3 linked regions of the Homo sapiens genome follow. The protein of the gene in region 2 interacts with the protein of the main gene of each other region in a pairwise test. Each region holds a gene or a part of one and is shown on either strand. Other genes may lie near its edges.

Region 1 (9,969 bases), on a different chromosome or scaffold from region 2:
AGCTGCCCAGAGGGACTGGAGCTCTGAGGACCATGCCCCAACAGCTTTGGAGGCGTGAAGATTCGAACTCCACCTCTGCTCTCCCCGTCTCCCGCCCCTTCTCACCAGAGCCCAGCCCAGCCCCACCTCTGCTCTCTGCCCCCACCCCAGCCCCTTCTCACCGGAGCCTGCCCCCGCCCCACCTCTGCTCTCCTGCTCCCACCACCCCCAACCCAAACACCGAGTGTGCCTGCGCATGCGTGGAGCTGGGGTTGTGTGTGATGCATCCCGCGTGTCACTTCTGCTAAAGCACAAATCCTCTGCCCTACAAACCATGAAATCAAAGAGGCTGTGAACCTACAAAGCCTGGAGAGGGGAAGCCAGGAGTGGGGGGTCACAAGAGGCTCCCAAGAGAGAAACAGAAGGGGTCATCATCCCCCTCTGCACAGCAGGACCTGGGGACCGGGTGGGCACAAGAGGATGTGTGGTAGGTAGGGAGGTGGGCTTCGCTGTGTGGAGTGCAGGGATGGCGCATCCTCAGGCTGGAGGGACGCCCAGCAGGAACGAGCGCCCTCTGCTCTCCCCGCTTTCATCCCACCATCTTCTGGAACACACTGGGGCCCTGCGTGTGCACTCAGTGGTCACAGAAGCCATGCATGACCAGGACAGCCCAGGATGTTGATTCTATGAAGAGACCCATGGACAAAGTTCAGAATTCCCTGGAAGGCTGCCCTGTGCTCCACAAAGAAAGAGCTCAAGTGTCTCTCCAAGGCCTGTAAGCAAGAACTCCCAGTTCCAGCTTCAAACCTCTACGTCAGTGCCAGTTAGGTCATGAGGCAATGACAAGATGGCACCAGGAAACTGGGTTAATCTCTGACTTCTCCAAACCGATACTTAGATGGACATTAGATAGATTCTTTTCTTTCTTTTTTTGAGACAGGGTCTCTCTCTGTTGGCCAGACTGGAGGACAGCTCACTGCAGCCTCGAATTCCTGGGCTTAAGTGATCCTCCTTTCACAGCCTCGCAAGTAGCTAGGACTACAGGTAATGCCCCCACACCTAAGCTAATGTTTCAATTTTTTGTAGAGACGGTGTCTTGCTGTGTTGCGTTGGTTGGTCTTGAACTCCTGGCCTCAAGTGATCCTCCCACCCCGGCCTCCAAAAGTGCTGGAATTACAGGAGCGGGCCACCGTGCCCAACCTAATTTATTTTCTTTTAGCAACTTTGAACTATGAGCATACTGGGGAGGGAAACCTCTAAGCGGAACTTCTTTCCCGTATGGTTATCCACTCTCAGGCAATTTTCCTCCATTATTTTGGAGAGAATTTATTCTATAACCCTGAAGACGAGTGCAGCGCTCCTTCACAACACACACGTGAGCTGGGGCTGTAGCAGGTGGCCTGCCGACCAGCGTCTCCCCAACCCCCACAACATGCACTCAAAGTAAACAACAGCATTAGACAATTAGAAACCTACTTCCAGTCAACCTTACGCTCACTGAGGCCACTGCAGCACCGCCAGCCACGTCTCCAAAGCAGGCGATGGGAAAGAAAGAAGGAGTCTCCAAAATGAGCACCCCTGAACCTCCCTCAGATGCAGCCTGGCCCAGAGACAAACCTCGAGACGGGACTCGGACCCAAAATCCTCCTCCGAGGTCGTTGCAGGGGACAAACCTCCCTGCCTCAGAGACAACTCTGGGGAAGAGGCAGCCAACCCACTCGCTCACCTAAAAATCCCTGGCAGGGGCAAAACTAACACCCAGGGACACATGGACCAATGGCTGCCCATGGCCAGGGCTGGGATGAAGGCCACGGAGCAGGGAGCACCCCGGCTCATGAACACGGGACACCTCAGCATCAGAACTCATCAAATGGACACGAAAGGGGTGTATTTCATGGAATGCAAATCACACCTCAATAAGGTTGACTTAAAAACTAACAGGCGGGCCAGGCGCGGTGGCTCACGCCTGTAATCCCAACACTTTGGGAGGTCAAGGTGGGTGGATCATGAGGTCAAGGGATCGAGACCATCCTGGTCAACATGGTGAAACCTGGTCTCTACTAAAAATACAAAAATTACCTGGGTATGGTGGCAGGCACCTGTAGTCCCAGCTACTCAGGAGGCTGAGGCAGGAGAATCACTTGAACCCAGGAGTCAGAGGCTGCAGTGAGCCGAGATTGTACCACTGCACTCCAGCCTGGCGACAGAGCAAGACTCTGTCTCAAAAAAAAACAAAACAAAACTAACAGGCAAAGAAGCAGGTACGTGATTACTCAGTGACCAGAGTCAGAAGCAGAGTTCTTGACACCAGCTGCCTGGACTCCTTCTCTCCACCCCTCCACCAGGCCCTCTTCATAGGAAGAGCAGCAGACACCTTCCAATCTGCCCGGACAGAGAGGCTGGGATCACCCAGAAGAAAGAAAAATTTCAGACGTTTTTGGCCTTAGAATGCAGCTGTGAGACCTCATTTCCTCTGAAAACTCACCCTCCCAATTATGTCTGCCTTCAACAACTGTTAAAATTAATTTCAATTTCCTTAGCCTAATACAAATACAAAGAGGAAGTTGGGGAGAGGAACAAGACAGTCTCCAGAGAGAGTGACTTCCTATTTAAATAAGGCAGGCCAGGCGCCGTGGCTCAGCTTGTAATCCCAGCCCTTTCAGAGGCCCAGTGGGGAGGGATGCTTGAGGCCAGGAGTTCGAGACCAGCCTGGGCAACAAAGTGAGACAACCCCCCACTCCCCTGTCTCTACAAAAAATACAAAAAAAACAATTAGCCGGGTGTGGTGGTGCGCCTGTGGTCCCAGCTACTCGGGAGGCTGAGATGGGAGGATCACCTGAGCCCAGGAACGTGGAGACTGCGGTGAGCTGTCATGTCATCATGCACTTCAGCCTGGACCACAGAGCAAGACCCTCTCTCAAAACAACAAAGAAAAACTATACAACATGAAAAAGGAGGGCAGGAACGGCTCCTCTCCACAGGCAGGCCTAGGCCAGTGCCCAGCTGAGAGGTCCCTGCTAAGTACCCATGTGGAACATCATGCAAGGAGGCGGATCTGGAGATTTTCTCTGAGATTCTGTGCTCCAACCCCACCGTTTTTCTGGAAAAATAATCTCACCCTAAGAAGTGACTTGCCTGCAGCCACGTACCCCATCCACGGCAGAGTGGGACGCTGGCCCAGCAGGGAGGTGTGGACCCTGCTGCTCCCCCGGCCTCAACCAGAAACCCCAAAGGAGAAACCCTCTTCTCCGGGTGCAGCCCAGGAAAGCAAGCCCCCAACTTACCAGAAGAGTATCCGCAAAATGTTGGCCACCAGCAGCACCAGGCACACGTAGGTGGAGAAGCCGTCGGCGTTCTGCGTCCTGCGAATGTCCCGATACTGCGGGACGTAGGGCACCACCCCTCCGAAGACCATGGCCGCGGCCGCGCCCCAGGACACCAGCTGGTGCAGTGGCACCAGGAGCCAGTCCAGGCCCTCGGCCTCCATCGCAGCGCCCGCCTGGCCGAGGCTGTCACGGGCTCCGCGCCCCGCGGGCCACCGGCCGCCTGCTCATCGCCGCTCCGCGCGCTCCTGCGGCCTCGGGGCCTGCGGGGAGCGGGGAGCTGCTCGAGTTCCGCCCAGGGAGGCTGGGGCGGCGCGCACGGACCCGACCCGACCCGCGCCAGCCGCAGGACCCGAGGCAGAGCGGGGGCGACCGGGGCCCGGGGCGCGCGAGGAGCGGCCCCTGCCTGGGACGGGGGGGTGTCTGGGGGTCCCGAGACGCTCCCGGAGGGGGCTGGGGAGGGGTCCCAGCGCCGGGGTCGAGGACGGGCGAAGCCCCTGGGGTCACCGCCCGGGTGCGCTTAGCCGGCGGGGGTCCACGCGCGCCCCGGGATGGGGTGGGGGAGGGGGCGCAGGGCCCAGGATCGGGGCGCACTGTTCGGGGGAGGGTCACAGGGCCTAGCATGGGGGCGCACGGCTCGGGGGAAGGGGGCGCAGGCCCAGGATGGGGGCGCACGGCTCGCGGGAGGAGGTGCCGGGCCGGGGACCCCACAGGACCAAGCCAGGGGACTGAAGGCCGCGACCAACTGCCCCGGCCCTGCGTCCTCGGCCGCCCTAGGCCGCCCCCCGAGGACCCCGCGCCGCCCCCGCGCTCCTTACCTGCGCCCCCAGCCCCGCGCCCAGCGCCCCGCGTCCCCGCGCCGCTGACCCGCGCGCGTCTCGGCGTCAGTCCGCTCAGGCGCCGGGAAACCCCGCCCCGTGACGTCACAATGCCGGGCCCCGCCCACGCCGGAGCTGCGCGGAGGCGCCGCGGTGTCCTAGAGCGCGCTGGGCAGGGCGGGCGCAGGCGGGGCCGGGAGCCGGGGCTGTCGGGGCGGTGGGGGCGCGTGGCTCCTCCCGCCCGGTCGGGAAATACCAGCCGGGCGGGGCCGGTCCCTCAGGCCTGGCGCCCACGTTAACCCGTCTCCAGCTGTCCCGGCGCGCGGCCATCCAAGCGGAGGGCGTCGTCCTGGAGGGCCGGGGGCGCGGGGTCCGGACGCCCCTCTCACGCGTGTCCTGAATGCGGGCCACCCGGGGACGAGTCTCGTCCAGCTCTGTCCTGACCCAGGAGACCCGGGGACCCGGCTCGGAGTTTGCAGCGCCCAGAGGCGGCCGGGGTCTCGGGAAACGGAGCGCCCCCCGCGGGTCTCCGCTCCGATGCAAGTGCCCCACGAGCAGATGCGCCGGGGCCGTCGCCGGGGGGCCGGCTGGACGCGCGGCCGTCACCGTGGCCATTGTCATTATCGTGGTTGCGGCCACGGTCGCTGTCGCTGCAGAAACGCGGGGCGGCCTCTCCCCATCCCCGTGTAGTTCTCCGGGCTGAACCGTTGGGCGCCTATTTGCAGAAAAGGCAGCTCCTGAGCCTCAAGACAGACTCGGGGGCCAGGCGTGCGTGAAGCCCGGGCCCTGCTGCCGGCCTCGCGTGCCAAGCCAACTCCGAGCCCCACACCCGCCCGCGGGGAGCTGCCCTCGCCCGGGACCCTCTTGGCCCGCGCGGGTGAGGACTGAGGGCGAGGGGCGCGTGGATGAGGGGCGCGCGGGTGAAGAGTGAGGGGAGCGCGGGTGAAGTGTGAGGGGAGCGCGGGTGAGGGGTGAGGGGCGCGCGGGTGAGGGGTGAGGGGAGCGCGGGTGAGGGGTGAGGGGTGAGGGGAGCGTGGGTGAGGGGTGAGGGGTGAGTGATGCGCGAGTGAAGGGTGAGGGGCGCCTGGGTGAGGGGTGAGGGGTGAGGGGCGCGCCGGTGAAGGGTGAGGGGAGCGTGGGTGAGGGGTGAAGGGTGCGCGAGTGATGGGCGGGTGTGTGTAGGGTGAGGGACGCGTGGGTGAGGGGCGCGGGGGTGTGAGGCGAGGGGTGCACGGGTAAGGGGCGAGCCGCGAGGTTGAGGGGTCCACGCTGAGGGTTGCTTCCCCGCCAGCCGCGGCCTCTTCTCCACGATCCCGGCCCCCTGCCCCCTGCCCCCTGCCCGACTGGTTTTATGGGGGATCATAAGGACAGTCACCACCTAACTAGGAGCAAATCCCCAACAATCGAGGAAACAGGGCGCTCCTGCCTTGCGCCCCCAGGCTGGCGTTGGAACTTCTTTAGAGCCAGCGCTGCGGAGCCCCAGCACCAGGAACGTAGAGGTGAGTAAAAGGCACAGCAGGAAGCCTGGGAGAGAAAAAGCAGCTGCCCCTGCTCAGCCGCGCCCTAGCCTGAGCCCAGCAGCCTTTGGGATCATCTGTCCTCTCTGCCCTGGAGGTTGGAGTAAGCTCCGGACCTCCTTGACCCTCACGGGAGCACTGGGGTCCCAGACGCTATCCTCGGTTATCTTAAATCCAGAGGCTGTGGAGGCATGGGGCAAATTGTGCCCGCAGCCTGGGGCCTAGAGCTGCATCTGTGCACGGGGCCTCCAGGAGCCCGGCTCAGTGGACGAAATCTGGCATGCTCGGACGTCACCCCACAGGCCTCACGCCTCAGAGGCACCCCGAAAGGTGAGTTGATGACTGCAGAGTGAGTTTGTACCTTTTCGAACACCACCTGCCGGGGGTCCGAGCCCCCACCCCCAGTCTACATCAGCCAATCACAGCTCATTGCAGGTGCTGCGCTTGTCACATAGCTTCCTGCAAACAAGAGAAGCCGACCAAGCCATGCACAGCTGGAAAATGGCCCTTATAAAGCCATCAAGTCCTAATCCAGGCAACCTGTAAATATTACCTCGTATGGGAAAACAATTTTTTTTTCTAATGTCATTAAGGATCTTGAGATAGAGAGATTGTCCTGGATTATCCAGGTGGGCCCTAAACACTGTGGCTCACGCCTATAATCCCAGCACTTTGGGAGCCTGAGGCAGGTAAATCTCTTGAGCCCAGGAGTTCGAGACCAGCCTGAGCAACATGGTGAGACCTCGTCTCTACAAAAGATAGAAAAATTATCTGGGCATGGTAGTGTGCACCTGTAGTCCCAGCTACTCCTGAGGTGGAAGGATTGCTTGAGGCCAGGAGGTTGAGGCAGCAGTGAGCCAGGATCGCACCACTGCACTCTAGCCTCGGTGACAAAGTGAGACCCTATCTCAAAAATAAATACATACAACAGAGACAGGGTCTCTGTGTTGGCCAGGCTGGTCTTGAACTCCTGGCCTCAAGCGATCCTCCTGCCTTGGCCTCTCAAAGTGCTGGGATGACAGGCATGAGCCAGCGTGCCCGGCCACATGCATCTTTGTAAGAGGGAGGCAGAAGGAAATTTGGTGCCACACAGAAGAGAGGGCCATGGGAAGATGGAGCAGAGATGAAGATGGGGCCTTGAAAATTGACGTGATGCAGTCCCAAGCCAAGTAACGCCGGAGCCACCAGAGGCCCCAGAAACAAGGAGCAGATTCTCCCCAGGAGCCATGCGAGGGAGCCTGGCCCTGCCAATGCCTTGATTTCAGCACATTAAAAGTGATTTTGGACTTTTGGCCTCCAGAGCTGTGAAGGAATAAACTTCTGCTGTTGTAAAAGCCACTTAGCTGTGGTCATTTGTTGCAGGAGCCAATGAGTGACTGACAAGATCAGAGCTGTGACACAGAGGAAGCAGAGCTGTGCCTCATGCTTTCCAGGCTCTGCTCATGAGAAACAGGTCACTGGGTTGGCCCGGTGCAGATTAAGGTGTCACGTAGGAGCATGAATACCTCAGGGAACCACTTAAGAATTTGCCTAACACATGGTGCTTATAAAAGGAAAAGCAAACAAAGCAACCTTGTTCTGAGAGCTGGGACATCAGAGGAAGATTGGAGCCACTGTTTCTCACTCAGCCTATTTCTTTTTATTTTATTTATTTATTTTATAGAGACGGGGAGCTCACTATGTTGGCCAGTTTGGTCTTTGAACTCCTGGCTTCAAAGGATCCTCTCACCTAGGCCTCCCAAAGTGCTGGGATTACAGGAGTGAGCCACCTTGCTGGTCGCGCACCCCATTTTTTAAGGAAACCTGTACGGAAGGTGGATTGGAAGTCTCACTTTAGGAGCCTGGCTCAGAAGTTCCGCAACTTCAACTGGTGTCATGTGACGTGCTTGGCAGTCACCACCCCCATCCTTACAGCAAAGAATAGCAGGGCAGCCTTTCATGGGCCCATCAGAGAACTAAGGCTGCCAGACAAACTGGCACCCTGCTCTGAAGAGACAGGCACATCCAGGGAGAGACAGCACCTGAGAGCTGCTCACCCAGAGCAGAAACTCCTGGATAAACTGGCTTTAGCAGAAAAATTAGACAACATGCAAGACCAGATAGGTGATATCAGCAGAAAGATGGAAACAATAATAAAAAAAAAATGCTAGAAGTCAAAAACACAATAGAAATAAAGAATGCTCATTAGTTGACTAGACAGAATGAAGGAAAGAATCAGTGAATATGAAGATAAGTCAACAGAAACTTCCCAAACTGAAATTCAAGGAGAAAAGGTGATGAAAAAAAAAAAAATCAACTGATCTAGTTTGAGTGTGTGTCCCCACCAAATCTCATGTTGAGTTATAATCACCAGTTTTGGAGGTGGGGCTTGGCAGGGGGTGTTTGGATCATGGGGGCGGGTTCCTCATGAATGGCTTGCACCATCGCTTCATCCCCTTGTGATGAGTAAGCTCTCACTCTGAGTTCATGTGAGATCTGTTTTTGTTTTTGTTTTTGTTTTGAGACGGAGTCTCGTTCTGTTGCCCAGACTGGAGTGCAGTGGCACAGCACAGTCTCAGCTTACTGCAACCTCCTGGGTTTAAGTGATTCTTGTGCCTCAGTCTCCCGAGTAGCTGGGATTACAGGCTTGTGCCACTATGCCTGGCTAATTTATTGTATTTTTAGTAGAGATGGGGTTTCACCATGTTGACCAGGCTGGTCTCAAACTCCTGACCTCTTGATCCACCCACCTCGGCCTCCCAAAGTGCTGCGATTATAGGCATGAGCCACCGCGCCCGCCTGAGATCTGTTTTTCTTTAAAGTGTCTGGCACCTACCCACACCCTCACTCTCTCTCTCTCTTGCTCCTGCTTTTACCGTGTGAAATGCCTGCTCCCACTTTGCCTTCCGCCATGAGTAAAAGTTCCCTGAGGCCCCCAAGAAGCTGAGCAGATGCTGGTGCCATGCTGGTATGGCCTGCAAGAACTGTGAGCCAATTAAATCTCTTCTCTTTATAAATTACTCTGTCTCAGGTATTTCTTTATAGCAATGCAAGAACAGCCTAATACACCAACAGAAAACACCATCCAAGAACAACATCAAAGGATATGATTGGTACAATGGGAGAATCGGAAGGAGGAAAGAGGAGAAGGGGCAGGAGAAATGGTGGAATGGCAAGAATGTCCCCAAATTAATGACAGACACCAAACCATAGATCCAGGAAACATACAGAACATCCATCAGGACAAATAACAAAAAACATAAAGCAAAACAAAACAAAAAACCACACCTAGGCTTGTCACATTCAAACTGAATAAACCTGCCTGACTGAACCCTCGTCCACCAGCCACAGCTACACCTCTGACAAGACAAGAGACAGATTTCAGTAACTCTCCTGGTAAGAGACCACTGACCATGGCTGGTCCCGGCTGGTTTACAAACTCTGTGCACCAAGTGCCTTTGAGTCTTAGAAAGACCTTTTGATGTATAGGGCCTAACTGTAATACATGTAAATGTTACATCTCTACCCCAAAGTGAACATGGGTCATGTGATACATACAGCAAGACCCCCTTCATGAATATTCATAGCTCCTCATGTAACCTATTAAGTATATTTAGCCAACCAAGTCAGCATAAAGCTCGTGCCCCATCCTCTCCTCCTCTGAAGGGCCTGTGTCTGGTCTTGTGGGATGTCTATCTTGCAAGTTATTTAAGAAATAGTCTCCTTTTCTAAATGCAGTGTTGTGTGATTTTTTAAGTTAACAAGAGGAATATGAATAAAAATGACCGTGGACTTCTTGTTAGAAATCATGCGGATAACAAAAGGGTAGAGTGAAATCTTTTTTTTTTTTTTTTTTTGAGACAGAGTCTCGCTCTGTTGTCCAGGCTGGAGTGCAGTGGCGCAATCTCGGCTCACTACAAGCTCCGCCTCCCGGGTTCACGCCATTCTCCTGTCTCAGCCTCCCGAGTAGCTGGGACTACAGGCACCCGCCACCACATCCGGCTAATTTTTTTGTATTTTTAGTAGAGACGGGGTTTCACAGTGTTAGCCAGGATGGTCTCGATCTCCTGACCTCGTGATCTGCCTGCCTCGGCCTCCCAAAGTGTTGGGATTACAGGCGTGAGCCACTGCGCCTGGCCGTGAAATCCTTAAAGTGTTGCAGTTGAAAAAAAAAAAATCTGCCCACCTAGAATTCCATATAGCAAAAGTATCCTTAAGGTGCAGGAAAAATAAAGACTTTTTCAGAAAAACAAAAACTGAGGGAATGTATTGCCGGTAGACCTGCCCTGTGAGAAATGTTAGAGAAGAGACAAGGAAGATGATACAGGTCAGAGGCTTAGATCTACATCAGGA
Region 2 (10,049 bases):
AGGCTAGACGCTAGGCACAGAGGATACAGCAGCTGCCCCGCGGGGGGATGGGGGTTACAGTCAAAGGAAACAAGGTGACACACAAAGGCCACAGAGACCAAGGAGAGGCCTTTGCTGTCCATGCAGTGTCCCCATGGCGTTAAGGCAGAGACCTAAAGCAAGACAGACACTGAACAGCAATGCTGGAGGGCAGGGAAGGGCAGGGGACAGCAGGGGAACCCTCCCAGGCTGGCAGAGGACTTCCTGGAGGCCAGAAAAGAACCAAGGGGCACTTCCTCAAGTACAGCAGAGCTCAAGGGGCCACTGGCGACGACCCCAGACCCTCCCCCGCAGCCTTGCTGCGCCCACAGTTCTTTCTCAGGCTGCGGTCTGTGGCTCCGGGTGCCCAGGCAGGACACAGTCCCACACTAACCCAGACCCCTGCCCTGCCAAGGTCTTATGTGGAGTGTCCCAACATGAGTTCCCAGGGATGTCCTGCAAATACCCACCTCCCCTCACTGCCCCCTGAGACCCAAGTGTTTCTGGCTCCAGCCGCTTTCCCTCTCAGTTCTCAAGGAGTTCTGCTTCCTGCCGCCCACACACGGCCAGGGCTGGCTGACCTCACCCTCGCCCTGTCCCAACACCACCAGATGAGCAGTGACTGGCTTGGTCAATTCACCACTACACCACACAAAGCAAGACCGGCCTGAGAACAGGAACAGCAACCCACAGGCAGCTCTGAAGGGCCTGGGCTTTCAGCGGGCACCCAGCCTCCAACAAGCCACTCCACAGTCTGCCCTGCCCAGGGCAGCCACCTCATAGTGTTTGGCCAGCTGTGCCCACGCTGAGGTGGCAACGACACCACCAGCCAACCTGAAAATCCTGCAACAAACCCTAAAGAGCCTGGAGGCAGCTAGGACCAGTTCTCATGTTCACTGGAACAGTCCCGTCAGCAGGGGATGGCCTGGGTTGATATTTTAGCTCAAAACAGCTCTGGAGGCCTTGAACCCAAGGGCAGCTTACAGTACCCCGTCTGTGGCCACACTGGGGTGCGCCTGAGCCTAACTGTGAGCTGTGCCCACCAGTCAGAGCAGACCCTCCCCCAGAAAAGCAGCACCAAGAAATCCAGTAGCTACTCAGGAAGTTGGACAGGAAAGTCACAACGAACACGAATCCCTCTTGTGTTGCTGGTTTTAACACGACCGGGCACGACTCACGTTTCTTCAGAGCGTAGTTTGTGACAGGCACCGTGCTCAGCGCTATGCATGCGTTAACTTTTTCGCAGACGGGAAAACTGGGCAACAGGGAGGCTACAGGCCTTGCAGGAGGCCATCGGCGAGTCCGATGCTCAGAGCACAAACGCCTGGCCTAAGAGGTGGTGTCTTGGCCTCTAGACTCCGCCTCTCCAGTCTGTCTGCAGGGGAAGGCTGGGGCCCTTCAGGAATGGGGTCCTAGCTTCCCATGGGCTCCCCTAGAGATGAGCCAAATTCAAAGCCTGTTCATGTGCGCAGCAGGGCTGACCTCCAGGCTCCACAGCGCATCCCAAACACACACTCCCTCTGTCCTTTCCCCCCGTCCGCCTGCCTGAAGATCTTGTGCTCTTCAAGCCCAAGCCTTGTGACTGCTCCTGCCCCAGGGGCCCTGCAGACCATCCGCACAGGGCACTGGGCCTGTCTCCAGCAGGAAGGAAGCAGCTTTATGCGCCTGCGTCCCAGGCAGCCACAGAGCAAGTGCACGATAAACTATTTTTTAAATTGCTTGTAAGCAGAGTATCCGCTGTTATTAAATGCAAACAAACAAATAAGCTTACAATGACTTTTAAGGGAATAGTTTTTTTATTTTTATTTTTGAGATGGAGTTTTGTTCTTGTTGCCCAGGCAATGGCGTGATCTCGGCTCAGTGCAACCTCTGCCTCCTGGGTTCAAGCGATTCTCCTGCCTCAGCCTCCTGACTAGCTAGGATTACAGGCGCTCACCACTATACTCGGCTAATTTTTCTATTTTTAGTAGACATGGGGTTTCACCATGTTGGCCAGGCTGGTCTCGAACTCCTGACCTCAGGTGATCCACCTGCCTCGGCCTCCCAAAGTGCTGGGATTACAGGCATGAGCCACCGTGCACAGCCGGGAATACTTTCTAAGGTTAAGAGATCAACAGATTATTTCCCAAAAAATCAACTCTTCTATTTGCAAAGACAGACAGGAAACCCCAAGCACATTCAGTCCCAAGAGAAACTCAAATTCAACCTCCATCAAGGTTCCTAATCTTTACCTTTCAGCCCTTAAAGTTGGGTTTATTCCTTCTACCTTGTGAACTTCAGATTTCTTTAATTAAAAAAATTTTTTTTAAATTTTTTGAGATAGGTTCTCAAACTCCAGCCTGGGCAAAAGAGTGACAAACTACCTCGGAAAAAAAAAAAAAAAAGCACCTCACTGCAGCTTCAACCTCCTGGGCTCATGCGACTCCTCTGCCTCAGCCTCCCGAGCCAGTAGCTGGGACTACAGATGCATATCACCACACCTGGCTAATTTTGTTTTTTTTTTTTTGAGACAGGGTTTCACTATTTTGCCCAGGCTGGTCTTGAACTTCTGGGCTCAAGTGATCCTCCCCTACCTTGGCCTCCCAAAGTGCTAGGATTACAGGCATGAGCCACCACACCTGGCCTTTCTTTTAAAACAGAAACACACACACACACACACAGAGGCATACACATACACACACAGGCATACACACAAATAACTAATCACCCATGGCCCCATCACTTCAAATTAACCCCTTCAGATCACTTTTCATGCAGACTACAGCACGGAGAGCAGGAGGGCCCACTTCAAAGGGAGCTGAGCTGCTGCTTCTTATCAGCAAAAGGCAGACTATGACCTTCTTTGTCTGGTGCGTTTCTAAGGAATTGGGAAAACCTAAATGTAGGTTCTATGGAAACAGGCTGATTTTCGTGTCCTTCCTAAACTTTTTTTTTTTTTTTTTTTTTTTTGAGACGGAGTCTCGCTCTGCCCAGGCTGGAGTGCAGTAGCGCCATCTCCGCTCACTGTAAGCTCCGCCTCCCGGGTTCAATTGATTCTCCTGCCTCAGCCTCCCGAGTAGCTGGGACTACAGGCGCCCGCCACCACGCCTGGCTAATTTTTTGTATTTTTAGTAGAGACGGGGTTTCACCATATTAGCCAGGATGGTCTCAATCTCCTGACCTCATGATCCACCCGCCTCGGCCTCCCAAAGTGCTGGGATTACAGATGTGAGCCACCGTGCCCTGCCGTCCTTCCTAATCTTTAAGCACAAGACAAGTGTTTAAAGGACTAGACAAGAGAAAATGTAAAGAATAACTGCAAAGCAGATTAAGACCCATCAACAAAACGGTCCATTAACTCAAAAGTAACACAATACGGCCAGGCGCAGTGGCTCACGCCTGTAATCCCAGCACTTTGGGAGGCTGAGGTGCGGGGGATCACGTGAGGTCGGGAGTTCGAGGCCAGCCTGACCAACACGGAGGAACCCCGTCTCTACTAAAAATACAAAATTAGCCGGGCGCGGTGGCGCACGCCTGTAATTCCAGCTACTCAGGAGGCTGAGGCAGGAGAGTCACTTAAACTCGGGAGGTGGGGGTTGCAGTGAGCCGAGATCGCGCCATTGCACTCCAGCCTGGGCAACTACAGTGAAACTCCGTCTCAAAAAAAAAAAAATATTAAGACAATACACAGACAGGGAAACAAATGTACCCGCAACGGTTCTCCAGACCTTAACACTGCTCAGACGCACGCTGCAGGGTGACATGCGGAACGCATTCCAACCTCTGACTTGCTGCTTATTGTGTTTGCCTGCACATTGCAAATTCAACTCGGTGCGAAGGGAGACTGAGTACAAATACTCGTCACTCCCAAGATCACCTGAAAGTCGGGACTGATCCCCACACAGAAAGATGGCAGATAAAGGCGCTCAGTCATTCTCACTGAAAGACAGTGACCCGGCTGCAATCTTAACTGTTTCCATCTCCCAGGGGGTCAAAAACGCAAACAAAATTAGTTGCTCGTGTAGGATGACAATTTTTAAAAGTCACCTGAACAGAAAGCCACTTGCACCCCTTTAGGGCCAGTCTGGGGGACACCGGAGGGAATGAACGTGCGCCACGGCTGCCCCGGCGCCCCTCAGCGCCCCACATTCCGCGGGGTCTGGCGAGCTCCGCCTCGCCCACGCAGCCCTCCCGGCCACCGAGCCCGGCGCGGCCTCCGAAGACTCCAGACCCCAGGCGCCCCCGCCAGCCCGGCCCCGCCGAGGAGCCCCGGGGCGCGTTCCCGAGTCCACCGCGCCTCGGTCGCCTCCAGGACCGAGACACGCGGCGCCGCCAGAAGGCTCACGAGGGCGCGGGCTGCGGGGCGCACGAGGGCTCAGTTTCCCCGCCTGCGCCCTGCCCGGCCTCACCTGGCGCGCAGCCCCAGGCCCAGCCCCGTTCAGCAGCGGCGTCCCCCCGCCGGGCCGCGCCGTCCTCCGCAGCAGCGGCGCCGCCTCCTCGTCGTCCCGGTCCCGGCCGGACCAGGACACCTTCTTAGAGACGTTGGCCATGGCCCGCCGCGGAGCGACACCGGCCGGGAAGCGCCGGCTGCCCCCGTGTTTGTTCTCGTGACCCGCGCCGGCGGCCACGTGACGCGCGACGGGGCCACGTGATGAGCGACGGCGACCATGTGACCTGCAACGGCAACCACCGAGGCCCGGTCGCGCGGGGGCTCCTGGGAGCCGCGCTCCCGGCGGGTCGTGGCGCCGCCCGCCCTAGAGAATCGCCGCGGCCCTGAGGACCCCGTTCTGCCCACGCGACTGCAAAGGCGGCCCCGTTGGGCTGAGCGCCGAGTGCTTGGGAGGCGAATGGCCGCCCCCGGGACCTCGGGCCCGGGAGTCGGGGCGAGGGAAGCGCCCGGGGCCTGAGGGCAGGAGCCGGCTGGAGGGGCTCCCCCAGGCCCGGTCGCCCGCGCCGATCGTGACGGAGCCGCGGTGGGGAAGGGAGGAGGGAGGCAGGGGCGAGGGCAGGCCTTTCCTTGCCATAGGCGGCGGCTAAAGACGTGAAGGATGAAATTAGAAGTCCCGAAGCATGCATCCGCCCTCGCAGTAGGCACTCGGGCGAGGGTCGGAGTGGAGGCTTCCTCCAGGCAGCCCCAGAGGGTCCTCCCGCCTAATGAGAAAAGAACAGAAGGCGAGTCCTCTTCAACGATCAGGCCCCAGAGACAGTACAGGAGGGTCGCCTCTGGAAACTGCCGGCTACTACGCAGATAGCTGTGAATTAGCCAAATAGCCGCCCGGACCCTGTACCCGCACCAGGGCACAGCCCATCACTAATCAATGGTATTTCCATAAACCAAAGAGAATTCTTGACAGCTTTACATCAGCCCCCACCCTGTCCCCACCTTCTGGGTCATTTATTTATTTATTTTGAGACAGGGTCTCCTTCTGTCGCCCAGGCTGGAGTGCGGTGGTGCGGTCACAGCTCAGTGCAGCCTTGACCTCCTGGACTCAAGCCATCCTCCCGCCTCAGCCTCTGGAGTAACAGGGACCACAGGCCTGCACCACCACACCCGGCTAATTTTTGCTGTGGAGCTCACAGTGTGTTGCCCAGGCTGTTCTCAAACTTCTGACCTCAAGTGATCCTTCCACGTTAGCCTCTAGAGTAAACTCTTTATATTTTGTGCCTCATCCTCTTCCTTTTAAAAGGTCGATATTTTTATTATTGAGACGGAGTCTCACTCTGTCGCCCAGGTTGGAGTGCAGTGGCCCAATCTCGGCTCACTGCCTCCCGGGTTCATGCCTCAGCCTCCCGAGTAGCCGGGACTACAGGCGCCCGTCACCATGGCCGGCTAATTTTTTGTATTTTTAGTACAGATGGGGTTTCACTGTGTTAGCCAGGATGGTCTCGATCTCCTGACCTCGTGATCCACCCGCCTCGGCCTCCCAAAGTGCTGAGATTACAGGCGTGAGTCACGGTGCCCGGCCTTTTTTTAAATTATTATTATTATTTTTTTATTTTTGAGACACAGTCTCACTTTGTCACCCAGGCTGAAGTACAATGACAAGATCATAGCTCACTGCAGCCTTGACCTCTTGGGTTCAAGGGATCCTCCTTCCTCAGCCTCCTGAGTTGCTAGGACTCTTCGTATGAGCCACCATGCCCGGCCATGGTTGGCATTTCTTTTTTCTTTTTCCTTCTTTTTTTTTTTTTTTTTTGAGACGGAGTTTCACTCTTGTCACCCAAGCTGTAGTGCAATGGCGCTATCTTGGATCACTGCAACCTCCGCCTCCTGGGTTCAAATGATTCTTCTGCCTCAGCCTCCCGAGTAGCTGAGATTACAGGCACCCGCCACCACACCTGGCTAATTTTTCTTTTTTTTGTTTCCTTTTGGTTTTTTTTGAGACAGAGTGTCGCTCTGTTGCCCAGGCTGGAGTGCAATGGCGTGATCTTGGCTCACTGCAAGCTCCGCCTCCCGGGTTCACGCCATTCTCCTGCCTCAGCCTCCCAAGTAGCTGGGACTACAGGCGCCCGCCACCACGCCCGGCTAATTTTTTGTATTTTTAGTAGACCCGGGGTTTCACCGTGTTAGCCAGGATGGTCTCAATCTCCTGACCTTGTGATCCGCCTGCCTTGGCCTCCCAAAGTGCTGGGATTACAGGCATGAGTCATGGCGCCAGGCCTAATTTTTGTATTTTTAGTAAAGATGGGATTTCTCCACGTTGGCCAGGCATGTCTTGAACTCCTGACCTCAGGTGATCCACCCACCTTGGCCTCCCAAAGTGCGGGGATTACAGGAATGAGGCACCGTGCCCGGCCCAGGGTCAGCATTTCTTAACGGTGAAGGGAAAAAAGAAACCTAGCAGGCGCCACCTGAACCAAGCAACCCAGTTCAGCATTGCTGGTGATGGGATAAGGTGGCATCGTGTGCCTCCTGATGTGATGCACCAGGAAGGACACAACGTCCCTTCCGGAGCATTCCTGCAAAACATGCTCACCTTGAGTCCACTCATAAAGGGGAAACACCAGATAATCCCACTTTGAGGGACAGCCTGCTGAACATCTAGGCCATCTTCTTCCACAATGTCAGTATTGTGAAAGAGACAAAGAGAGGCTGAGGAGACAACCTCACGTGGGTCTGGCATGGTTGAGACAATTGGCAAAGATTGGACATACACTGTATGAGCTAACGGTGTTGGAGCAGTAGTAAATCTCCCACGCGTGATCATTATATTGTGGTTACGTCAGGAAAGCTCCCCGATCTTAGGAGATACATACTGAAATACTTGGGACCTTGTGTTGCTATGTCTGCAGCTTACACTCGGACAATTCAAAACCTGACAATAATCATAATGAGTAGCAGCCTTCTGAGAGGGAGGGAAAATGGCAATGTTAACATCTGGCCCTTGGCTGTCTGCACCACCATGCAGCAGGCAAGAACGAGCACCTTAACCGAAGTGGCAGGAAGGGAGCCAAGAAGAAAGAGGTTGGTCCACTGTCTGAGAGAGACTGGCATGAGGCGAAAGCACCAGCTGTGCTTGGCATAAGGAGTATGGAAAACACCAGGCACAGGGACGTCAGGAACCAAAATCACACCCGATGGCCTCAAGGGCCGTGTTTTTGAAGTCAGTACTGCTCATCTGCAGAATGGTGAAGTTGCATCTGGAAAATTCAAGCTAATCACTGAGGATGTTCAGTGCAAAAACAGCCTGACCAGCTTTCATGGAAAAAAAAAAAGACCATGATTGAAGCTCATATGGTTGTCAAAACTACAGATGATCATTTGCCTCATCTGTTCTGTGCTGCTTTTACTAAAACAGTGCAGCAAGCAGATTGGGAAGACCTCTCACAGGCAGCACTGGCAGGCCCGTCAAATCCAGAAAAGATGGTGGAAATCATGGCCCAAGAGGTGCAGACAAATTACTCGAAAGAAGTGGCCCATGAATTGATGCTAGACAGCACTGGGAGAGACACAGAGAAGGTTCCCCAGTCTATCCAGGTATCCTCTCCAGGATGTCTTCCTTAGAAAAGTAAAAATGCTTGGGAAGCCCAGGCTTGCATTGGGAAAACTCAAGCTTTGTGGTGAAGGTCGCTGTCCTGGAAAAGCTACTGGGGATGAGACCAGTGCTAAATGTGAATGAGCTGACGGATATGAGCCCCCAGCCCAACAACCTGTTTAAAATTCAGGCTTTGAATGTTGATAACCAAACTAACATTTGACCCAGCAATCCCCTTACTGGGTGTATGCCCAAAGGAATATAAATTGTTCTATCATTAAAACACATGCAGGCCAGGCGCAGTGGCTCACACCTGTAATCCCAACACTTTGGGAGACTGAGGTAGGTAGATCACTTGAGGTCAGGAGTTTGAGACCAGCCTGGCCAACATAGTGAAACCCCATGTCTACTAAAAATACAAAAATTAGCCAGGTGTGGTGGCAGGCGCCTATAACCTGAGCTACTTGGGAGGCTAAGGCAGGAGAATCGCTTGAATCCAGGAGATGGAAGTTGCAGTGAACTGAGATTGCACCACCTCACTCCAGCCTGAGTGACAGAGCGAGACTCTGTCTCAGAAAAAAAGCAAAACCAAAAACACACGCACGCGTGTGTTGATTGCAGCACTATTCACAATAGCAAAGACATGGAATCAACCTAAATGCCCATCAGTGGTGGACTGGATAAAGAAAATGTGGTACATGTATACCATGAAATACTATGCAGCCATAAAAAAGAATGAGATCGTGTCCTTTGCAGGCACATGGATAGAGCTGGAGGCCATTACCCTTAGTAAACTGACCCAGGAACAGAAAAGCAAATACCGCATGTTCTCACATAAGTTGGAGCTAAACGATGAGAACACATGGACACAAAGGGAAAAAAACAGACACTGAGGCCTATTGAAGGGTGGAGGACGGGAGGAGGGAGAGGAGCCGAAAAAAATAACAAAATATTGGGCTGGGCGTGGTGGCTCACACCTGTAATCCCAGCACTTTGGGAGGCCGAGGTGGGTGGATCACTTGAGGTCAGGAGTTTAAGACCAGCCTGGCCAACATGGTGAAACCCTGTCTGTACTGAAGATACAAAAATTAGCTAGGTGTGGTGGCACACACCTGTAATCCCAGCTACTTGGGAGGCTGAGGCACAAGAATCACTTGAGCCCAGGAGGCGGAGGTTGCAGTGAGGGGAGATGGTGCGGCTGCACTCCGGCCTGGGCGACAGAGCGAAACTCCATCTCAAAAACAAATAAAAATAACTGTCCAGTACCAGGCTTAGTACTTGAGTGAGGAAATTATGTGTACAACAAACCCGCATGACATGAGTTTACCTATATAAAAAACCTGTACATGTACCCCTGAACCTAAAATAAAGTTTAAAAATAATAAATAAAGCCGGCCGGGTGCGGTGGCTCACGCCTATAATCCCAGCACTTTGGGAGGCCGAGGTGAGCGGATCACGAGATCAGGAGATGGAGACCACGGTGAAACCCCGTCTCTACCAAAAATACAAAAAAAAAAAAAAAAATTAGCTGGGCGCAGTGGCAGGCGCCTGTAGTCCCAGGTACTTGGGAGGCTGAGGCGGGAGAATGGTGTGAACACGGGAGTTGGAGCTTGTGGTGAGCCAAGATCACGCCACTGCACTCCAGCTTGGGTGACAGAGTGAGACTCTGTCTAATAAATAAATAAATAAATAAAATAATAATAAAGATAACACTTGAAGAGTCTAGAATAAATATATATGATGTGCAATGTATTCATCTGCAACTTTTTTTAGGCTTGAAATTTTTCCAAATCAAAAGTTTAAAAGTTCCTTAGAGGCCGGGCGCGGTGGCTCACGCCTGTAATCTCAGCACTTTGGGAGGCCGAGGCGGGTGGATCACGAGGTCAGGAGATTGAGACCATCCTGGCTAACACGATGAAACCCCATCTCTAGTAAAAATACAAAAAAATTAGCCAGGTATGGTGGCGGGCACCTGTACTCCCAGCTACCAAGGAGGCTGAGGCAGGAGAATGGTGTGAACCTGGGAGGCGGACCTTGCCGTGAGCCGAGATCGTGCCACTGCACTCCAGCCTGGGT
Region 3 (9,304 bases), on a different chromosome or scaffold from region 2:
CACGGAGCTGTGGGGTCACTGGTGAGGGGAAGAAGACAATTAGCAGTCTAAGCGGGAGGGAAAGAGAAAACTAGAGAAGCAGGGCGGTCAAAAGTGAGACGAATGAGCCATCCTGGATCTCTGGCTCCCTGGTGAATTCTGAAATGGATGGAAATGGAGGGCCAGCATCTCTAGTAAAGGACTGTTTAATGTGTATGTACTTGGCCAACTCAAAATAAAATGTTTGGAGCATGAATAGCCCCATATGATATATGCTGTTTGGTTGACATATGCTTGTATTTTAACAACCAACATTGTCCCTTTTATTTTTGCAAACAATATGATATGATCTGGTCCTCACTTTAATTTTACATGAAAGGTATAATGCATCTACGTAAATAAGAAAGCAAAGAAGTTTTCTAAATGCTTTAATTTTTTGTCACAAATATTTCTGCATCTCTCAGTCCCTTCTTGTTGGAAAAAGGAGGGCTAGTGATACATTTGTTAATGGCACTTTTAAAATGTGCTTTGGTATATAGAGGTAACAATGTACTTCTTAGGTATGTTAATAATAAATTAAGGTTATAATGGTTGCCATATTAGAGAAAATGAATAAGATTAGTCTCAGCAAAAATAAAAATTAGTTTGGAAGTAGATAAGCTAGAAATATCAAAACTGAAAAAAATAGCTTCCCAGATAGCGTTCTACTATGTGCAATTTTTTGAGGAATAATATTCAATTACAGAGTGTAATACCTTGCACAGCACTTGACATATAGTAGCTATTCAGCAAATGTTTGTTGAATTTTATTACTTTTTAAACAAATTACTGAGTAATCTTCCTTAGTAATCATTTCTGTAACTCAGATAAAAATAGAAATTTATAAGAGTTTTTATTTTTGTTACTTGTAAAAGTATATTTCCTAGAGAAAATATCAGCAGTGGTAGAGACCAGAAAAAGTAAGTGTGTGTGTTCTAAACAGTGATTCCAACTCAATGTGTTCAGAGAAAACACTTTGACCCTGTCTGTGTTTACAGTCCCTGCTGACAGTGTACTGTCGTATCCTCAGCCTTGTTCTATTTCTTTATTTTAGCTTTACAGAGATTAGGTCTCAAGTTATGAGAATCTCCATGGCTTTCAGGGGCTAAACTTTTCTGCCATTCTTTTGCTCTTACCGGGCTCAGAAGGACATGTCAGGTGGGATACGTGTTTCTCTTTCAGAGCTGAAGAAAGGGTCTGAGCTGCGGAATCAGTAGAGAAAGCCTTGGTCTCAGTGACTCCTTGGCTTTCAACCCACCTAGCCTCAGACAGCCAGGAGGCCTTTTTACCACTGGATACTGATGAGATGTTTTAGGTCCTTGCACTTTGCAAAACTCCTTTCTCCCAGTGGGATATTATTAGGACATAGCCAGGCTAGAAAGGCCGTGGGAAGCTTTGGAGGTAGGAGGATAGGATCCAGACAGGGTTACAATAAGGAGAAGGGCATTCTCTTTGGTGCACTCCATAGTCCAATGGCAGTCCTGAGCTGATTCCAGTTAGGAACCAAGGGTGGACTTTCTTCTTTGGTTCTTTGGCCCTTTTGATTTCCCCAGCTGGGGCAGGGTAAGGAGCATGAAAGAAACCAGCCTCAGGTGTGTCTCCTCATTTCTGTCTCATCTAAACTTCAGCTTCCAGGCATCGCACGGTAGTTTTGCTTGGACTCTTGGACTCTTCTGGGTTTTTATCAGTTTTCTTTGATTCCTCATTAGGGTTGCTATCATTGGCCTTCTCCTCCTTTACTACTTTGGTTTCGATCATTTCCTTCTGCTGATTCTTGTTTGTAAAAGGGAAGGCCTTCACATACCTTTAGGCAGAAACATGAAATTAAAGTGAGAGACTCTCACACATAACGATAGATAACACTTTTTGGCCATGGTACATATTGGCACAGTACACTGGATACCTTTATTTCAGAGTGATGCCAGCACATGCATGCTCTAATACATTAAGACATCACCACCTTAATGGATTCATTTAAATTGGACAATATGTTTGCAGGCCAGACTTTAGGCTGACCACATAACTCTTCCAACAAAAACAAAGAACCAAAAATCAAATAAAGCATATAAATTTTCCCCAGATGTCAATTTTTTTTAATTTCTTGATTTTCAAAGGACAGTCATTGACTGATGGCTGGACGACATGCATGTCCTGAAATAGAAAAGATTGGGCTGAAGGGAAAGAGATGAGATGAGGGAGAAATTTATATCAGAGGACTGCTATCTCCATTTTGATCAGCAAAATGCCAACAGTGACCCTGAAAAAGCACAGGATAGAAACATGACAAAGATTACAAGACTAGCAGTGCACCAACAACCCTACCTTTTGACATAGCAAAATCCAAGACCAGCTGCAGCACCAAAGAAGAGGAGAGCAAGCACTAGCAGAGCCGTGGGGACACCTGCAAGGAACAGAGACAAGGCCTGTTGGTCCTTCACTTAAACATTGTGTGTAATGCTCATTGCATGATCCAGGTGATTGAGACAGTAGACAGTACAGGAGAAAAACCTTCTCTGTAGCCCTTTATGATATTGGGCCCACACCAGCTTCTTTGCTTCATGCTTGTAGAATCATTGGCCTTGCTTCTCACACTCTCAATTCTATCAGTTGCAATATGACAGAGTTCATTTCTCCTCCATGGCCTTGAGACCTACTCTAGTCAACAAGCCTGCCTGAGAAAGAGATGACTAGAATAAAGTCATAGGCCTTTAGGGTATATATTTTAAAAAGAACTTATGCATAGGAACAGATAGTGATTTATTTTTAAAAGTCTTGAGTTTTCAACAGTGAAATTCTTTTATACTTACACTTTTTAGCTTAATCACTAAGGTTCTTTACAGCTCTCAGATTCTATGACTTCATGAAAGTTGAGTTTGTGTTAAGCTTTTATTAGTATTTGACAGGTCCTGAGCGCCTCATCTAAAGACAGGCAGGATTCTATGAATTATCTGTTATACATGAACATACATACACACGTAACATAGACACAGAAACCATTTACCTCCAAACCCAGCAGCTTCATTCTTGAATGCTGCTTTATTTTCAACAAATGGTTCAGTTTCTGTAGACATGGTGCTAGTTTCCATAAAAACTTCTGTGACACAAATCAATTTTTTTCTCCGTGGAATAGAAGTGGAAGCTGGAGCAGGAGGAGTAGTAGTAGGGGCAGGTATTGTAGAGTAAGGGGATGCCACCGAGTAGGTACTGTCACTGACAATAAATTCTGTTGTTTGTGTTGCAGTTTGAGTGTTGAATATGGGATCTTTGGTGGTGATAATTTCTGGAATGCACGAGTTAGTCCAAGTATCTGTTGGGATAGGGAAACATGGAATAAAAGTATTGCAACAGCCTCCTAACTGTTCTTCTTGCCTCTAGTCTTACTACCTCCAAACCCCTTATACCGCAGCTGGAATGGTCTTTAAAAAGCAAATCTAACCATATCACTTTCTTCCTTAGAAGCCTTCAGTGGCTATCTTTGTTGTATGGCCTACAAGGCCTTCTGTGATTTGGCCCCTGCTAACATGCCAGCCTCATCTGCTCTTTTTCTCTCATTGCCCCTGCCATACTGAAATTACTTGAAATTCCTTGATACACTTTATCTTACATCCAAGCCTTGCACCACGATGCTTTATTCACCTTTATGACTCTTTGCCTCTCTTTATTTAGCTTACTCTGACTCATCCCTCAGGTCTCAGATTGACCCTGTCTTTCTCAGGCAGACTTGTTGACTTGATTGGCATATGTTCTTGTACTTCCTTGTCACAGTTCTCATTACACTGTTCCCCACTGGACTGCAAGCTCTCTGGCAGCAGAAACCCCGTCTGTCTTGGTCAGCATGGTATGAGCACTGTGTGTGGTACATAGCACATGCTCAATAACTATTTGATGAATAGGGAAGGAAGGAAAAGGGAAAGGAAGGAAAGTATAGATTGGAAGACCAAATATACACATGTGGTGTCACTTCAGGACAAAGATATGCTAAGACCTGATATTTCTGGGCTCATTAAAAAAAGAAGTGAACAAAAAGGGACCAGGAGAGGGATAAGGGTTTGCTTTCCAATCTGTTGCATGTGCTAGAGAGGAAACACTTGTTAAAGCATCTTAATCTGAGTTGACCATGGCAGTAAGTGTTTAAATAGGTATCTCATTGAACAATATTACTAAACCCTTGTTTACACAGGAGGAAACTGAAGTTTAGAGAAATTGAATAACTCGCCCAAAGTCACAGAGCTAGTAAATGGCAGAGCCATGCAATATATTATAATATAAATTTGCATCTATTTTAAGTCCCTAATTATTTGTGGCAGTGGGTAGCATCAGCTGGGGTTGGGGGGTGGGCTAGCAGAGGGATAGCATTAGAAGAAATACCTAACGTAGGTGACGGGTTGATGGGTGCAGCAAACCACCATGGCACATGTATACCTATGTAACAAACCTGCACATTTTGCACGTGTATCCCAGAACTTAAAGTATAATAAAAATAAAATAATAAAATAAAATTATCTCTGGAAAAAAAGAAAAGAAATACATGGGATGGGAGTACAAGTTAAATGAAACCATGAGGAAATAGACAAATCCAAGTCCTCTTCCTCTGGCTCTTCTCTGTTTAGTCAGAGGGCTGGGTATCATCACATTGCCAGCTGGCAGGAAGGCAGTTAAAAAGCAAAGCCATTTGACAGGCATGGGCTGGCTATGAGGTATGCAGGCATATGTAGCTCACCAATTCCCCAGCCAGTGATGATAGACCAAAGAGGCAGAGAAGGGAAGGAAGATGGGAAATACACTGTTAGGAGAAGCCCTATGTTTCAGTCTTGATTCTGCCACTAACTGACCGTAGGACCTTGAACAAGCTAAGCCCGTGTTCTGAACTGTAGTTGTTTCATCCATGAAGTGAGGGAACTGGTCAAAGTTTCTCCATGGGCCTTTTCTGTGCCAAAGCCCTCTGGATCAGGGAACTACTTGGATCCTATATTGCCTTTCTGGGACAGTTTTTGCTAATATTGGCTGGTGCACATTTATCTCTCGGATCTTCGAGAATGATCTTGAAATCTATCCTGTGTATGACCTCTCAGCCACCTAACCTTCAGAAGGTCAGATAGATGAGTATGTGTGAAAAGTAATAATCAGACAGGGGTCCTTATGACAAACTGAGAGCAAGTGAGTATTTAGTAAAAGAAAAACTTTAGGAGAAGTACTTAGGTGAAGCACTTGGGCTAAGGCAGCCAAGGTCTTCAAGCAAGGTTAGTGGGTGACTTCATGACCACGAACAAATCAGTGCTGCCCTCCAGGTGTCAATCTTTTCCTTCATAAAGTGGAGACTGGGTCTGGTTCTTAAAATTATAAAGGAATGTGGAACAGTGGAAAGAGTGCGGTTTCAGAGTTAGACCTGAGTCTGAACCTTTACAGTAATGAGACGTTAGACAAATGTGTTTACATCCTTTGAACTCGGTTTCTTTTTTTTTTTTTTTTTTTTTTTTTGAGACGGAGTCTCACTCTGTCGCCCAGGCTGGAGTGCAATGGCATGATCTTGGCTCACTGCAAGCTCCGCCTCCTGGGTTCATGCCATTCTCCTGCCTCAGCCTCCCGAGTAGCTGGGACTACAGGTGCCTGCCACCACGCCTGGCTAATTTTTTGTATTTTTAGTAGAGACGGGGTTTCACCGTGTTAGGATGGTCTCAATCTCCTGACCTTGTGATCTGCCCGCCTCGGCCTCCCAAAGTGCTGGGATTACAGGCATGAGCCACTGTGCCCGGCCTGAACTCGGTTTCTTTATTTGCAAAGTGGGGATGATAAAGCATATCTCATAGGGATCTGTAGATTCCATATAGGTGGAAGCAACCAACCTTGGATTGAAAATATTTGGGAAAAAAAGAAAAATAACAATACAACAATAAAAAAGCAAATAATACAGTACAATGACTGTTTACATAGCATCTACATTGTATTAGGTATTATAAGTAGTTTAGAGATGATTTAAAGTGTACAGGAGGATGTGTGTAGGTTATATGCAAATATGACCCCATTTTATATCAGGGACTTGGGCATCTGTAGATTTTTGTATATGATGGGGTGCCGGAACCAATCTCCCACTGACACTGAGGGACGACTGTGCATCACTTTGTCCATAATGGATGCATTACATACATCTGTACCTTTGTTCCTTCCCTTCTGCCTGCTTATCTTATAGGATGCAGGGATGGTGGCAGTGGTAATTGAGCCTCCTGAATGTCTTCTCGTGTGTTGCCATTCAGTTATATCTCTCCTAACTTTTTCCTTTGAGGGGCATATTGCCACCCCTAGCCTGGCCAGAGAGACAGTGTCGGGAGAATTAGATGGCCGTGGCTGTGATTGCTTCTGCTGCTGCTCAGGGTTACTCTTCCCAGACAGGTCTCAGAGTGAGAGATACCCAGAGAATGCCACGTGGAAAGGTTGCAGATCAGACTCACCAGATGAGTTGTAACAATAGGCTGCAAACTGTCGGCTCACTGGAACCTTCCAAATCAGGACACCCACCCCATTTTTCCCACACTTGGGGTTTGGGCTAATCCTAGAGATGACCACGAATCCATCTCCAACCCAGCCATAGCTGTAAAAGAATACACACTAGTTGAACAGAAAAATGATTAGAAGGCTTCATCTCTATTGCTGAACAAGAACACAGAGCTAAAAAAGAACTCCAGCAGTGACAGTGAAACCAGCTTTTTCTCACCTGCAAGTTTCAAAGCTAGCTTTCAAGGCTGTTTCAACTTGGTCCTTGCCGGCCAAACTTAGTCCCAGCAGCCTACAGGCCTCCTTAGCTTCTGTGAAATTCAGCTGCTGGTTCGCCTTTTTGCTCACAAGGGTGATCCCCATAATTCTGCATGACACCTGGATGGAAAGCTCTGCAAAGGAATCACATAGGTCCTCAGTTTGCTGCTGTCCTTGTTTCCAGCCCTTAGACTCTCCTTCCCAGCAGAGTATATCGTCCTGATGCGCAGGGAGGTCTATCTGGCTGGGACTGGGGTTTAGAATAACAGGACACAGACCAGGCATTTTCCACAAGGACCATCTGCTGGGCTAGATGGATGCTTGTTCTTGTCCAAGCTGTAAATGTCGCCCAATCAAAATCTATCCCATCCCACTGCATTAAGATGCCTTGCTCACCATATAGGGGCTTTGGCTACCTGTTGTTGGGGTGCAGTCTAAGGGATGCAGTTACTGCAAACCTTTCTGGAGTCTGTAAAATGAAGCATCTGAGACTTTGAGAAAGATAGAATTCAGGGCTCTAGTTCATAGAATAGTTAGCAATACCCCAAACCAATGTGGTTTGGGGACACTACTATTTGTGAGATGGGCTGAAAATGTCACACTTGTTATAAAAGAATGTGAGTGCTCTCAGTTCCAGGTCTTTTGGCCACTGGGGGACAGGCTTACTCAGAAGTTCCTGGAGGAGCTGGCAGTAAACTTTGAATGGCAGAAAAACTAAATGAAGAAAGCAGAATTTTAGAGTCAGACTTGGGCTTAGATCTAGCATATGTCATTTGCTAGCTCTGTGACCTTAGCCTAGATACTTCATCTCTTTAATCTTCAGCTCTTTGAGCCTCCTTGTTTATAAATTCAAGGGAGTAACAGTGTCTACTGAATAGGGTAGTGAAAGTTAAGTGAGTAAATTCTAATACAAATGTTTAGCATAGTGCCTGCCACATGGTAGGTGCTTAATAAATCCACATAACATTATCATTATCGTTAAAGCATTTTGGTTTTGGTCTGCTAATGATTGATTACCCCACAGAAGCTGAGGCTGTTGAATAGGTAAGATATGAATAATATTTCTACTCAAAATCTAATGGATTTGGGAATTCTTTTGAACCCTTTTCTCTGGGTTCTGGGATGTACAGACCTGTATAAAATTGCCAAGTTGTATTGTATTCAAATACATTATTCCTACTGGGCTTCATCCACAAACATCCATAAAAGGGCATTTAAATCTCTCAAGTAATTGCTTGTACGCAGCTCTGTGTATTGGATGCTCAGTCAAATGCTTTGACCACTTCCTAGGTTGATATCTAATGGAAGTTTCTTTTTGAAAACATGGAAGGAGCATTTCTAAGTCCTCCATATGAACCTTGCTGTGGTGGCAGATTAGGAGCACACACTCAATTATGCCTGATTCTAAAACCCCAGTTCCTCTTTTTTCCTTCTTCTTTCCCAAGAGATGGATCTTGCTATGTTGCCCAGGCTGGTCGTAAATTCCTGGGCTCAAGCAATCCTCCCACCTCAGCCTCCCTGAGTAGCTGGAACTACAGGTGTGCACCAGTATGGCCAAGCAAGAACCCCAGTTCTTTTTTTTTTTTTGAGACGGAGTTTCACTCTTGTTGCCCAGGCTGGAGTGCAATAGCGTGATCTCGGCTCACTGTAACCTCCACCTCCTGGGTTCAAGCGATTCTCCTGCCTCATTCTCCCAAGTAGCTGGGATTACAGGCATGTGCCACCAAACCTGGCTAATTTTGTACTTTTAGTAGAGACAGGGTTTCTCCATGTTGGTCAGGTTGGTCTTGAACTGCCGACCTCAGGTGATCCACCCACCTTGGCTTCCCAAAGTGCTGGGATTACAGGCGTGAGCCACTGTGCCTGGCCCTTTTTTTTTTCTTTTTTGAGACAGAGTCTCGTTCTGTCACCCAGGCTGCAGTGCAGTGGCGTGATCCATGCTCACTGCAACCTCTGCCTCCCGGGTCCAAGCAACTCTTGTGCTTCAGCCTCCTGACTAGCTGGGACTACAGACGCGAGACACCATGCCCAGCTAATTTTTGTATTTTTTGTAGAGATGGGGTTTCACCATGTTGGCCAGGCTGGTCTCAAACTCCTGACCTCAGGTGATCCACCCACCTCGGCCTCCTAAAGTGCTGAGATTACAGTCATGAACCACCGTGCCCAACCCGGCCCCCAGTTCTTAACAATGACACTGTTTTACCTTTCACAGTGCTATAAGGAAATGAACACACACAGACACACACACACCCCTAGGCTGAACTCCCTGAACACACCGTTTGCTCTGAAATTTGGCTCTTTTAGCTCATGAGCTTGCTATTGCTCAGGTCTCTTATAGCTACTTCTTTGGGAATGGATTGCAGAGGTTTATTTGTCACATTATCAATTGGTCTTACTACCCTCTCATCATATGTCATTTGTACTCTAAATACTATTATTTAGAGGAGTGATAGACTTATTCTAGGTGGATAGACTTAGCTTTGAATATTTTTTCTATTGTTAACTGGCTGTTGCGACATCAGGCAAGTCAGCATTCTCA

What was found.
Region 1: the proteins of CLCN7 (region 2) and SLC66A2 interact in binary tests that used the Homo sapiens proteins (3 or more experiments, as listed by UniProt).
Region 3: the proteins of CLCN7 (region 2) and LYVE1 interact in binary tests that used the Homo sapiens proteins (3 or more experiments, as listed by UniProt).

What each region holds. Positions count from the first base shown.
Region 1 is NC_000018.10:79,947,461-79,957,429, forward strand, and holds the start of SLC66A2 (solute carrier family 66 member 2), read right to left. Parts: upstream 4,194-9,969; 5' UTR 4,121-4,193; intron 3,571-4,120; exon of another isoform or gene 3,566-3,570; 5' UTR 3,467-3,565; coding exon 3,264-3,466; intron 2,102-3,263; exon of another isoform or gene 2,059-2,101; intron 1-2,058.
Region 2 is NC_000016.10:1,470,428-1,480,476, forward strand, and holds the start of CLCN7 (H(+)/Cl(-) exchange transporter 7), read right to left. Parts: upstream 4,602-10,049; 5' UTR 4,548-4,601; coding exon 4,407-4,547; intron 1,337-4,406; exon of another isoform or gene 1,197-1,336; intron 1-1,196. UniProt on the Homo sapiens protein: Slowly voltage-gated channel mediating the exchange of chloride ions against protons. Functions as antiporter and contributes to the acidification of the lysosome lumen and may be involved in maintaining lysosomal pH.
Region 3 is NC_000011.10:10,557,476-10,566,779, forward strand, and holds part of LYVE1 (lymphatic vessel endothelial hyaluronic acid receptor 1 precursor), read right to left. Parts: intron 6,900-9,304; coding exon 6,728-6,899; intron 6,605-6,727; coding exon 6,465-6,604; intron 3,326-6,464; coding exon 3,020-3,325; intron 2,420-3,019; coding exon 2,341-2,419; intron 1,823-2,340; coding exon 1,636-1,822; 3' UTR 1-1,635. UniProt on the Homo sapiens protein: Ligand-specific transporter trafficking between intracellular organelles (TGN) and the plasma membrane. Plays a role in autocrine regulation of cell growth mediated by growth regulators containing cell surface retention sequence binding (CRS).